Linked DNA regions of Homo sapiens: region 1 is linked to region 2. The links come from fine-mapping of genetic effects on gene expression. A gene starts in region 2. The other region holds a variant in brackets. All regions are shown on one strand. Distances are between the middles of the regions. Region 1 has its middle 70 kb from the start of SLC5A11. Region 2 holds the start of SLC5A11 (solute carrier family 5 member 11).

Region 1 (5,372 bases), 69 kb after region 2:
TCCCCACCAAAAGCCAGTAAGGCTTTGACCTGCAGAGCAGCGGCCTCCTGTTCTGGGTAGAGCCAGCCTCCTCAGCTTCCCAGCTTTGGGCCCACTGGAGTCTGACGGAATGACCCATCAGGGCTGCGTTTGCCACGTGCAGAGCTAAGAGCAGGACAGGGCCAACGGAGTGAGCCCTGAGACCATCTCTGGAGTAGCTCAGGGCCATGAACCATCCAGGCCTGGGATAAGGTGGGGTGGACTAGAACCCCTTCCTGGCCTGACAGAGCTGGAAAGCAGAGGAGTCTCTCGAGGGACCCCAATTTTCAGACCAGAGGAAAGTAAACAGGACCCCCTGGGGCTGAGGAGCTGCCCACCCACTTAATCCTCCAGTGATGATGTCTTTCTGGTTCCTACTTGATGCCAACAGCTAGGACTGGCCTGGTGCACAGGCAAATAATGTATTGGTCCAGCCTCAGCTCTGCTCATAGGCCCAGCTCTCTACAGGAATCCAAATAGCAGTAGTAGGTTGGACAAAGGGCACCCCCAGCCCTCCTGGGAAGGGGTATGGGCGGGGAACTGGCTGCTAACATGGCTCCAGGCAGGAGCGTGGAATGGTTCTGGAGCAAGTGGGCTCAAGGAGAAGTCTTCACCGGGGAGGTTGAGCTTCTGCCTCCAAGGCCCAAAGAAGGGGAGTGGGCGGCATGGGAGGCTTCCACTACAGTCCTGAGCTCCCCGTCCAAGCCTGCCCCTCACACCAAGACCCCTGTTGCCTCTGGCTGGGGTCAACAGTGTGTTTCAGCAGGGACGCACTGAGCTGTCACTATGATAGCTCAGGCCACCCCCATCTCTGCCCGGACTCCTGACTGCCTTCTCACATCCAGTCTTCCCATTCTCCAGCCACTGGCAGGGTGAGCAACTCGGATCAAGCCAATCCTCTGCTTGGAATCCTTCAGAGACCTTCCCACTCAGGATGAACTCTGCAATCCTTTGCCTTCCTTTTTTTTTTTTTTTTTTTTTTTTTTTTTGAGACAGGCTCTCACTCTGTTGCCCAGGCTGGAACACAGGGTGCGATCATGGCTCAATGCATTCTCAAACTCCCAGGCTCAGGTGATCCTCCCACCTCAGCCTCCTGGGTAGCTGGGACTACAAGTACGCACCACCATGCCTGGCAATTTTTGTTGGTTGTTGTTGTATTTTGTGGAGAAGGCATTTTGCCATATTGCCCAGGCTGGTCTCCAACTCCTGGGCTCATGTGATCCACCTGCCTTGGCCTCCCAAAGTGCTGGGATTACAGGTGTGAGCCCCCATATCTGGCCTTTTTTTTTTTTTTTTTTTTTTTTTTTTTTTTTACAGACAGGGTCTTGCACTTTGTCACCCAGGCTGGAGTGCATTGGCATGATCATGACTTACTGGACCCTCGAACTCCTGCCTCAACCTCTTGAGTAGCTGGAACTACAGACATTTGGCCACCATACCTGGCTAATTTTAATTTTTTTATGTAGATGGGGTCTTACTATGTTGCCCTGGCTGGTCTCAAACTGCCGGCTTCAAGCAATTCACCCACCTCAACCTCTCAAAGTGCTGAGATTACAGGTGTGAGCTGCTGTGCCCAGCCAGCTGAGAGATTTTAAATGTTCTCGCCACAAAAAATAAATGATAATGGAGGTGATGGATATATTAATTAGCTAGATTTAACCATTCTGCAATGTATACATATACAAAAACATGTCGTATACCATAACTTTTATCAATTTAAAAAACCAGTGCAGTGCAAATACAATTTACAGATGTGCACAGAAACTGAATTCAGGCCAGGTGCAGTGGCTCACATCTGTAATCCCAGCACTTCAGTGGGCTGAGGTGAGTGGATCACCTGAGGTCAGGAGTTCAAGACCAGCCTGGCCAACAGATCAAAACCTCATCTCTACTAAAAATAAAAAAATTAGCCTGGCATGGTGGTGGGTGCCTGTAGTCCCAGCTACTTGGGAGGCTGAGGCAGGAGAATGGCTTGAACCTGGGAGGCAGGGGTAGCAGTAAGCCGAGATCATGTCACTGCACTCCAGCCTGGGTGACAGAGCAAGATTCCATCTTAAACAAATAGAATGACAACCAAAAACCCCAAATTCAAATACAAGTAGAAAGAGTGAAAACAGAACCCTGAGGATTTTTTTAGGTTGGGGTTCTTCCTTGTATCAAATATCCCCCTCCCCACA[T/G]GTCATTTGTGATGATGTTTCGTGTGTGAAGGATAGACCCTAAGGTGACCCTCAATCATCCCTACTTCCTGGGAAGTGGATCCTTCCCCAGCCCAGCCTCCAGATGAGATCCCAGCCCTGGCTGCTGCCTTGACTGCAGCAGATGAAGATCCTGGACAGAGGACCCAGAGAAGCTGTGCCTGGACTCCTGACCCACAGGAGCTGTGAGAAAATGAACATGTGTTGTTGTAAGCTGCTAAGTATGTGATCATCTGTCATGCTGCACTGGATAACTGACATGAGGGGCATGGTGTGTGAACGCATGTGTGGATGTAAAGGAGGGGTTGGCTGGAGAGGGTGTGGGAGGAGGACAGTTGCCTGCAGAGCTGTGTGGGGTCTACACAGCCATGTACCTCCTTTGGAGGGTATCGAGTACAAGTAATTTGGTTGCCAGTAAGAGAAACAAACCCAAAGAGGAACGTTTGTGCCAAAAACAAGCACTTTATTGTGAGCATACAAAGGCAAGAAATGCAGAATGGCTTCAGGCACACAAACCGGGAGCTGGGAGGGTTTTAAAAACCAAGCCCTGCACTCTCTCCCTCTTATCTTTTGTCCCTGCCTCTCCGCACATCTGCTGACTTCTCCCTCTGCAGGCAGGTTTTCTCTACTCCACAGAATCCACGGTGGTGGCAGGGCACCCACAGCTCCGTGCCGGGAGACAGGGGTCCTGCCTGCTGGGGAAGAGACTCAGGGCCCATGCCTGTGCGAACCCATGCGGGACAGGGTGGGGATGGCCATGTGTGCAGCCTGCTGTGGGCAGGAGGGAAACTAAGGGGGTCCTTGACTTGCTCCCCTCCCTTAGCTGGCAGCTCAAGTGGTCTTGGTCACTTCTTGTCTTTTGGCTGCACCAGAGCCTGTGGCTTCCCCGCACCAGCACATCTCCTCCTCTCTAGCTCCACCGATGAGATAGGAGGAAAGTGCAAGCCCTTGACTGAGAAGCATCCCTATGAGTGAGGTGCTTGCTGCCCAGTCTGATGCAAAACCCTGAGACCGTGGGTCCCAGAGGCCAGAGGCACTGGAATATGGTGAGGAAATCGTGGGAGGAGACCTCAGGGAGAAACCAGGAGGGTTTGTCTTAAGACCTTCAAATAGGAGCACTTGTGGGACTCACTGGGCTTGGGAGACACTGAGAACTGCAGCCCCAACAGAGGAGCGGGAGTCACTCCACGGAGCTCCCAGAGAACCAGGGCCATCACAATGGTCCAGGGATGGGGTCACTCCAATGGCATCTGAATTTTTTTTTTTTTTTTGAGACAGAGTCTCGTGTCACCCAGGCTGGAGTTCAGTAGATGATCTTGGCTCATTGCAACCTCTGCCTTCCAGGTTCAAGCAATTCTCTTGCCTCAGACTCCTGAGTAGCTGGAACTACAGGCGCGTGTCACCACACAAGCCTTTTTTTTTTTTTTTTTTTTTTTTTTTTTTTTTTTAGTAGAGACAGGGTTTCACCATGTTGGCCAGGCTGGTCTCAAACTCCTGACCTCAAGTGATCCACCCACGTCAGTCTCCCAAAGTCCTGGGATTACAGGCACGAACCGCTGCGCCTGGCTAATTTTGTGTGTGTGTGTACACACACACACACACACACACACACACACACATATAATTTTTTTTTTTAGAAGAGATGGGGTTTTGCCATGTTGGGCAGGCTGGCTTCAAACTCCTGACCCCGTGATCCGCCCACCTCGACCTCCCAAAGTGCTGGGATTACAGGCATGAGCCACTGCGCCTGGCTAATTTTTTTTGTGTGTATGTGTATATATATATATATATATATACACATACACGCGCACACACACACACACACACACACACACACACACACATATATATAATTTTTTTTTAAGAAGAGATGGGTTTTGCCATGTTGGCCAGGCTGGTCTCAAACTCCTGACCCCGTGATCCACCCACCTCGACCTCCCAAAGTGCTGGGATTATGGGCATGAGCCACCACACCCAGCGCATCTGAACTCTTGGAATGACCACAGGGTGGAACTCGGCAAAACCAAGGCAGCCAGGGCTCTACTCTGAGCCTCTGCAGTCTCCACAGTGCTGGGTGCAGGACAAGCTCCTTCCAGAATGCTAGGTGAGTGCTAAACCACAGGGGGTAGTGAGAGGAACCGGTGCCTGACCAAGGAGGTTTGGTGCAGGTGGGGGAGCAGGGACACGAAGTCTGAGCGCAAGGGCCTAGAACATTCTATAAGAAACTACTGTGTAGAGAAGGGAAGGAAACAATCTGAAGGGCAGATGGCCAGTGCCCTTCTGGACAGCCAGAAATGGCCACTATGGGTTCAGATTCTCTGCCTCTCTGACGGTGGGCAGGCTGGAAATGGTGTGCCTAACGTACAGTGCCAACACAGTACAACGCCTCCAGCAGAAGGAATCCCGGGCCACAGAACGGGAAAGAGGATCCAGGTGCCTCTCCTGGCCCTGCCGGTGGGATGCTCAGCCATGTATCCCACCCTAGACAGTTCTGGGTTTTTTTTGTTTTTGTTTTTTTTGAGACAGAGTCTCACTTTGTTGCCCAGGCTGGAGTGCACTGGCTTGATCTGGGCTCACTGTAGTCTCTGTCACCCAGGTTCAAGTGATTATCCTGTCTCAGCCTCCTAAGTAGCTGGGATTACTGGCACCCACCACGATGCCAAGTTAATTTTTTGTATCTTTAGTAGACATGGGGTCTCACCATGTTGACCAGGCTGGTCTTGAACTCCTGACATCAAGTGATCTGCCCGCCTCGGCCTCCCAAAGTGTGGTCTTTACCTTTGACACATACACAGAGTCAAATGACTTTCATTGTTTTGAAGTTTGCAGCTGTCAGGGTAGGAAGATTGCTGCAAACAATAGGAGAGTAAAAACTGAATGAGGCTCTTAAAATAATGAGGTATGGTTTGCTGTATTTCAGAATCAGCAATGATGAACACATGCTATATGCTGGGCAGGATGTCAGCATGGATGTTTCTCATCCCCAGGTGCCAACAGCATCTCCTTGACAAGCGCCCAAGTCCCTGCTTCCTCTGGAGGACAAGCTCAGGCATCACGATGGGAGCATCTCCGAGGCTCCATGGAGACACCTGACCGTGGACAGCCAGGCGCCTGGAGAAGGTGCTCAACATGGAGCATCAGCCTACACAGAGGATTCTT
Region 2 (5,372 bases):
TTTTTTTTTTTTTTTTTTTTTTGAATTGAGATCTCATTCTGTTGCCTCGAGTGTAGTGGCACTATCATGGCTCACTGCAGCCTTGAACTCCTGGGCTCAAACGATTCTCCCACCTCAGTCTCCTGAGTAGCTGGGACTACAGGTGCACACTGCTATGTCCATCTAATTCTTCCTATTTTGTGTAGAGATGAGGGTCTCACTGAGTTACCCAGACTGGCCTCTAACTCCTGGCCTCAAGAGATCCTCCTGCCTCAGCTTCCCAAAGCTCTGAGATGATAGCATGAGCCCCTGCACTCCACCTCTCCTATTCTTTATAGCACTGAGGGTAAAAATGAAAAACCTGACAGAGAAACAATCGGAGGTGACAAGCCAAGGGTCGAGCAGGCCACATCTGGCCCTCAAGGATGCGTAATCATGAAACTTTGCAGAACTTCTCTAGAACAATCAGAAGTTCTGACCCCATTGGGCCTGTCTTCCCCCACGTGGAGCTGGGTCGTGGCTGTCCTCTTCAGCTGGGACACATGCTCTCGGGTCAGCCTCAGCTCCACCTGCCCGGCTTCACTCACTACCACGCCTCTTCTGTAGACACCCTGCACATGGCTAAGGCTCCCCAGACATTCCCAAGAAGTCAGGACTGGACCCCAGGTTGGCGAAGCAGTGCACCCTCGGTGGCACCCCACTGCCTTTCCTGGTGCTGTGGCCTCTGCTGCAGATCACAGATTCATGGCCTTCTGTCTGTCCCTCTTCTCCAATCCCAGCTGTTCCTTCTGTAAATCTGTCCCCCAGGGCAGGTCCCTCCCCCAAAGGCCCCATTCATACTGGTGTTGGTCAGTCACCCAGTGTTTGCTCACCCAGGCCACCCTTTATCCAGTCAAGCCACCCTCCACTGCTCCTGCAGGACTCTAGAGCCAGGTGGCCTGGGCTGAAATCTTGCTGTGTCACTTACAACCCGGGTGATCCTGGGCCGATGACTCATCTCCTCTACCTCTGTTACCTCGTCAGTAAGATAGAGATAACAGGACCTAACTTCGAGGGTTGTTGGAAAGACCAAGTGAGTAAAGGCATGTTGTGCCCTTAGAGCCTGGCACGTGTTCATCACTGCTATTATTTCTGGCTACTCGGTGCCAGGACAGGGGCCTCAGCTGAGGGCCCCCCAGAGCCTGGCAGGCCCAGTGAAGGAGTGAGATGGGGAGGCCACGACTCCTCCCCAGTCAGCAGCTGTCCTGTGGCCATGGGGGCCTGGTGAGGCCAGATCTTCAGGTTGTTCTAGAAAAGTGAGTATTCTAGAATTATGTTTCAAGCCTCTTGGTTTGCAAATACTAGTAACTATTTTTAAAATGTTTTGGTATTTGGCCTGGCACAGTGTTTGACCCCTGTAATCCCAGCACTTTGGGAGGCCAAGGTGGGAGGATCACTTAAACCCAGGAGTTGGAGACCAGCCTGGGCAACATAGCAAGATTCTCTCTCTACCAAAAAAATGAAAAAATTAGCTGGGTGTGGTGGTGCACGCCTGTAGTCCCAGCTACTCGGGAGGCTGTGGTGGGAGGATCACTTGAGCCCAGGAGGATGAGCCTGCAGCAAGCTGTGATGCCACCACTGCACTCCAGCCTGGGTGACAGAGTGAGATCCTGTCTCAGAAATAAAAAGTAAATAAAGTTTTGGATGCTTTGAGCATCTGGCAGAAATCTTCGCTATGCCCCGCTGATGTCCTGGGCCCGATGTGGGCGCCTGGCCATGGCTCGGTCACTCCTGACGGTTTTTCAGGGCCTCAGACACCTCTTCTTCTTCTTCTTCTTCTTTTTTTGAGACTGATTTTCGCTCTTGTTGCCCAGGCTGGAGTGCAATGGTGTAATCTCGGCTCACCACAACCTCCGCCTCCCGGATTCAAGTGATTCTCCTGCCTCAGCCTCCCGAGTAGCTGGGACCACAGGCATGCACCACCATACCCGGCTAACTTTGTATTTTTAGTAGAGATGGGGTTTCTCCATGTTGGTCAGGCTGGTCTCGAACTCTCGACTTCAGGCAGACACCTGTTCTTTGCCATGCCTCTGTCTGAAGAGTATATGGAAAGGGGTTGCACAAGCAATGGTTGCTGTTCCTGTTGCTGCCACTGCGGTGAGGGCTGTGGCTGGACGTCCCTCCTGGCACTTTGCCTCTGTCCCCTCCATCCGCCGCCAGCATTTTTCCTCCCCTCCCCTTCCTCCAGCTCGTCCCAAGCCTGCCTGTCCCCAGCGTGGAGGCGGGACAGTGGAAGACTGGGTGAGTGAAGCAGGATGGTGCCTTGGGCTCCAGCGTCTCCCCAACCCCTCCATGCCATGGGTCCCCACGCAGGTGAGGACCCTGGTGGAGGACGGTGTGGGCAGAGCGTGGGACATGTCACCTTCCCCACCTGCTCAGAGTTCAAGGGTCCTGGGCTGGGCCCCGTTCTCTCTTCTGCCCTGGGGAGATCATTCACGCTTCCTTTAATCCCCGCTGCAGCTGAGGCTGGAGTTTGGAGTTTGACCCGCTTGGAGGCTCTCTCAGCAGCGGGCATATAGGAGGAAGGGTCACTGCTGTCTCCGGAAGCTCTTGGCTGCAAAGAGAGAGGATCCCGGGTATCTCCCTCCTTACAACCACCGCCACCTCCTAGTGCCTTAGAAGCCACTGACAGCCCCCAGGGCAGGTGAGCCCTGCATCTGGAATAAGGTAAGACACCCCCTGCCCCCAAACAGGTAGCCACTCTCCAAACTGGGAAGTTGGTCTGGGGACAGGTGCTGGCAGAAGGACTCCAGCTGTCACCTGTGGGGCAGGGGAAGCTCAGCCCTCTCTGCAGAGAAAGCTTGTCATACACCAGGACAATGGAGTGTGTTTGTGGGGTGGGCATGGTGGTATGAAGCCAGCAGCCGGCAGCCAGCAGCACCGTACGTGGGTCCCAGCTCTTCCACTTAACCAAGGTCAGGGACATTGAGCCAAACATTTTGCCTCACCGAGTCTCAGGTTCCTTATCTGTCAAATGGGAATATGAACCTCAGGCTGACCCACCCCACAGGTGTGTTACCCAGAGATAACGAAGGTAAATGTATCCACATAAGCATTAAAAAGCTATAGGAATGTATTTACTACAACTGCAGCTGCTGTTAACTACAAGGCAAATACAAGTCTTCACTGGTACGTGTCAGACACGTGCAGAGAACTTTACGCCTGGATCTCATCTAACTGACACAGAAACCCTGTAAGGTAGGTACAGCACCCCCTAATTCATGGACAGAGTCTAAGGGTCATTAAATAACTTGCTCAAGGTAATACAGATAGTGAGTGGCCAAGCCAAGACTCAATTCCTGTGGCCATGAGCTCAGCCACAATATCAGTGATTTTCTTTTTCTTTCCTTTCTTTCTTTTTCTCTTTCTTTCTTTTTCTTTCTTTTCCTTTCTTTTCTTTGTTCTTTCTTTCTTTCCTTCTTTCTTTTATTTCTTTCCTTATTCCTTTCTTTCCCTTTCTTTCTCCTTCCTTCTTTCCTTCCTTCCCTCCCTCCCACCTCTCTGTTTCTCTTTCTTTTCCCTTTTTTCTTTCTTTCTTTCTTTCTTCTCTCTCTTTTATTATTTATTTCTTCCTTTCTTTCCCTTTCTCCTTCCTTCTTTCCTTCTTTGCCTCCTCTCTCTCTCTGTGTGTGTTTTCTGTTCTCTCTCTCTCTCGTTTCTTTTCTGTCTTTTCTTTCACAGGGTCTCTCTGTGTTGCCCAGGCTGAAATGTAGTACTATCATAGCTCACCAGCATGCCCTGCTAACTTTTTTATTTTTATTTTTTGTACAAATGGGGTCTCCCTGTGTTGCCTTGGCTGGTCTCAATCTCCTGAACTCAAGCGATTCTCCCGCCTCAGCCTTGCAAAGTGCTGGGATTACAGGCATGAGCCACTGCACCCTACCAATCAGTGGTTTTCAAATGGTGTTCTGCTGAATTATTCTGGGCAATAGTTGACAGAAGTGTCCTAGCCCATTGGGCATCCTGCAGATAGGACTTGGAAAAATGCTGTCCCTTTTTTGGGCGGTCACAGCGTGCAAAGGATCTATAGCAAAGGCTCTAAAAATCCCACATTTATTTGTTGTACCAACATTTATTGCATGCCTGTTTTGGGGACACAATGAGAGTGACAGAGACATGGACCTTTCTTTATGGGGCTTGCTGTGCAGTGCAGACAAGGGGTAATCACACACATCAAGTGTTACACTTGATTAGACTGTGATGAGAAGTTGTGTTTGCCATGAAAGCAAAAAGCTTGGGGACCCAATTTATATTGAGGCCAAGAGGGGGCTCCTTTGGGGATATACAGCAGGCTGACATCTAAAGGATGAGTAGGAGCTTGTCCAGCAAAGAGTGCAGGGAAGAGCATCCCAGGCAGAGGGAACAGAATGGCAAAGACCCTGAGGCCAGAAATCGTGTTCCAGGAATAAAATGAATGCTAGTATGTGGTGGGGTTGGAAGCACAACAAAGCACCCCAGCAGCATGGAGATGTTTTGAGCAGGAAAATGATCTGATCTGACTCATACTTAAAGATTTCTCTGGCTTCCGTGTGAGGGGCGGATTAAAAGGAAGCAAGGCTGGGTGAGGTGGCTCATGCCTGCAACCTCAGTGCTTTGGGAGGCCAAGTTGGGAGGATTGCTTGAGGCCTGGAGTTTGAGACCCGTCTGGGCAACATAGCAAGACCCCGTCTCTACAAAAAAATTACAAAATAAGAAGTTAGCTGGAGGCCAGGCATGGTGGCTCACACCTGTAATCCCAGCACTGTGCAGGGATCATTTGAGCCCATGGGGTTGAGGCTGCAGGAGCTGTGTTTGTGTCACTGCACTTTAGCCCAGGCAACAGAGTGAAACCCTGTCTCAAAAAATAAAAAATTAGCTAGGCATGTTGGCATGTACCTGTGGTCCCACCTACTTGGGAGACGGAGGTGGGAGGATCCCTTGAGCACAGATGTTCGAGAGTTTGAGGCCACAGTGAGCTCTGATGGCACCATTGCACTGCGGCTTGGTCAAGGGAACAAGACCCTGTCTCTAAAAATTAAGTAAATTAAAACAAAAATAAAATAATAAAATAAAAAGGAAGGAAGAATGGATATCGGGGAGGTAAGACTGGAGGGTCTTTCTCTAACCTAGACAGAAGTGATGGTGGCTCAGACAAGGGTGATAGCACTAAAAATGAGGGAAAATGTGTGGATTTATTATGTTTTGGAAGTAAGAGAGAATGGAATTGGGAGTGAATAGATTCTGGGAGGTGAGAAAGAGATGCTATAAATTCTTCGATGAGACATTTACATACCAGGCACTCTTGGTGCTTAGATGTAGTGCCTGGCACATAGAGGTGCTCACAGACCACTTGATAAGTGAACAAATGGACTAAT

What was found. PIP is the estimated chance that this variant, and not a neighbour inherited with it, causes the effect.
Region 1: its variant is the best candidate, but not a certain one, in a credible set for the expression of SLC5A11 in whole blood (TOPMed, PIP 0.58).

The regions. Positions count from the first base shown.
Region 1 is chr16:24,912,798-24,918,169 of GRCh38, forward strand. No RefSeq gene overlaps it. Among named protein-coding and RNA genes, the nearest start is that of SLC5A11, 70 kb to the left of the region's middle. The variant T/G (reference allele first, on the strand shown) is at 2,196.
Region 2 is chr16:24,843,754-24,849,125 of GRCh38, forward strand. SLC5A11 (solute carrier family 5 member 11) reads left to right here and starts at 2,210. Exons shown (of 17, transcript NM_001352248.3): 1 at 2,210-2,259; 2 at 2,479-2,685.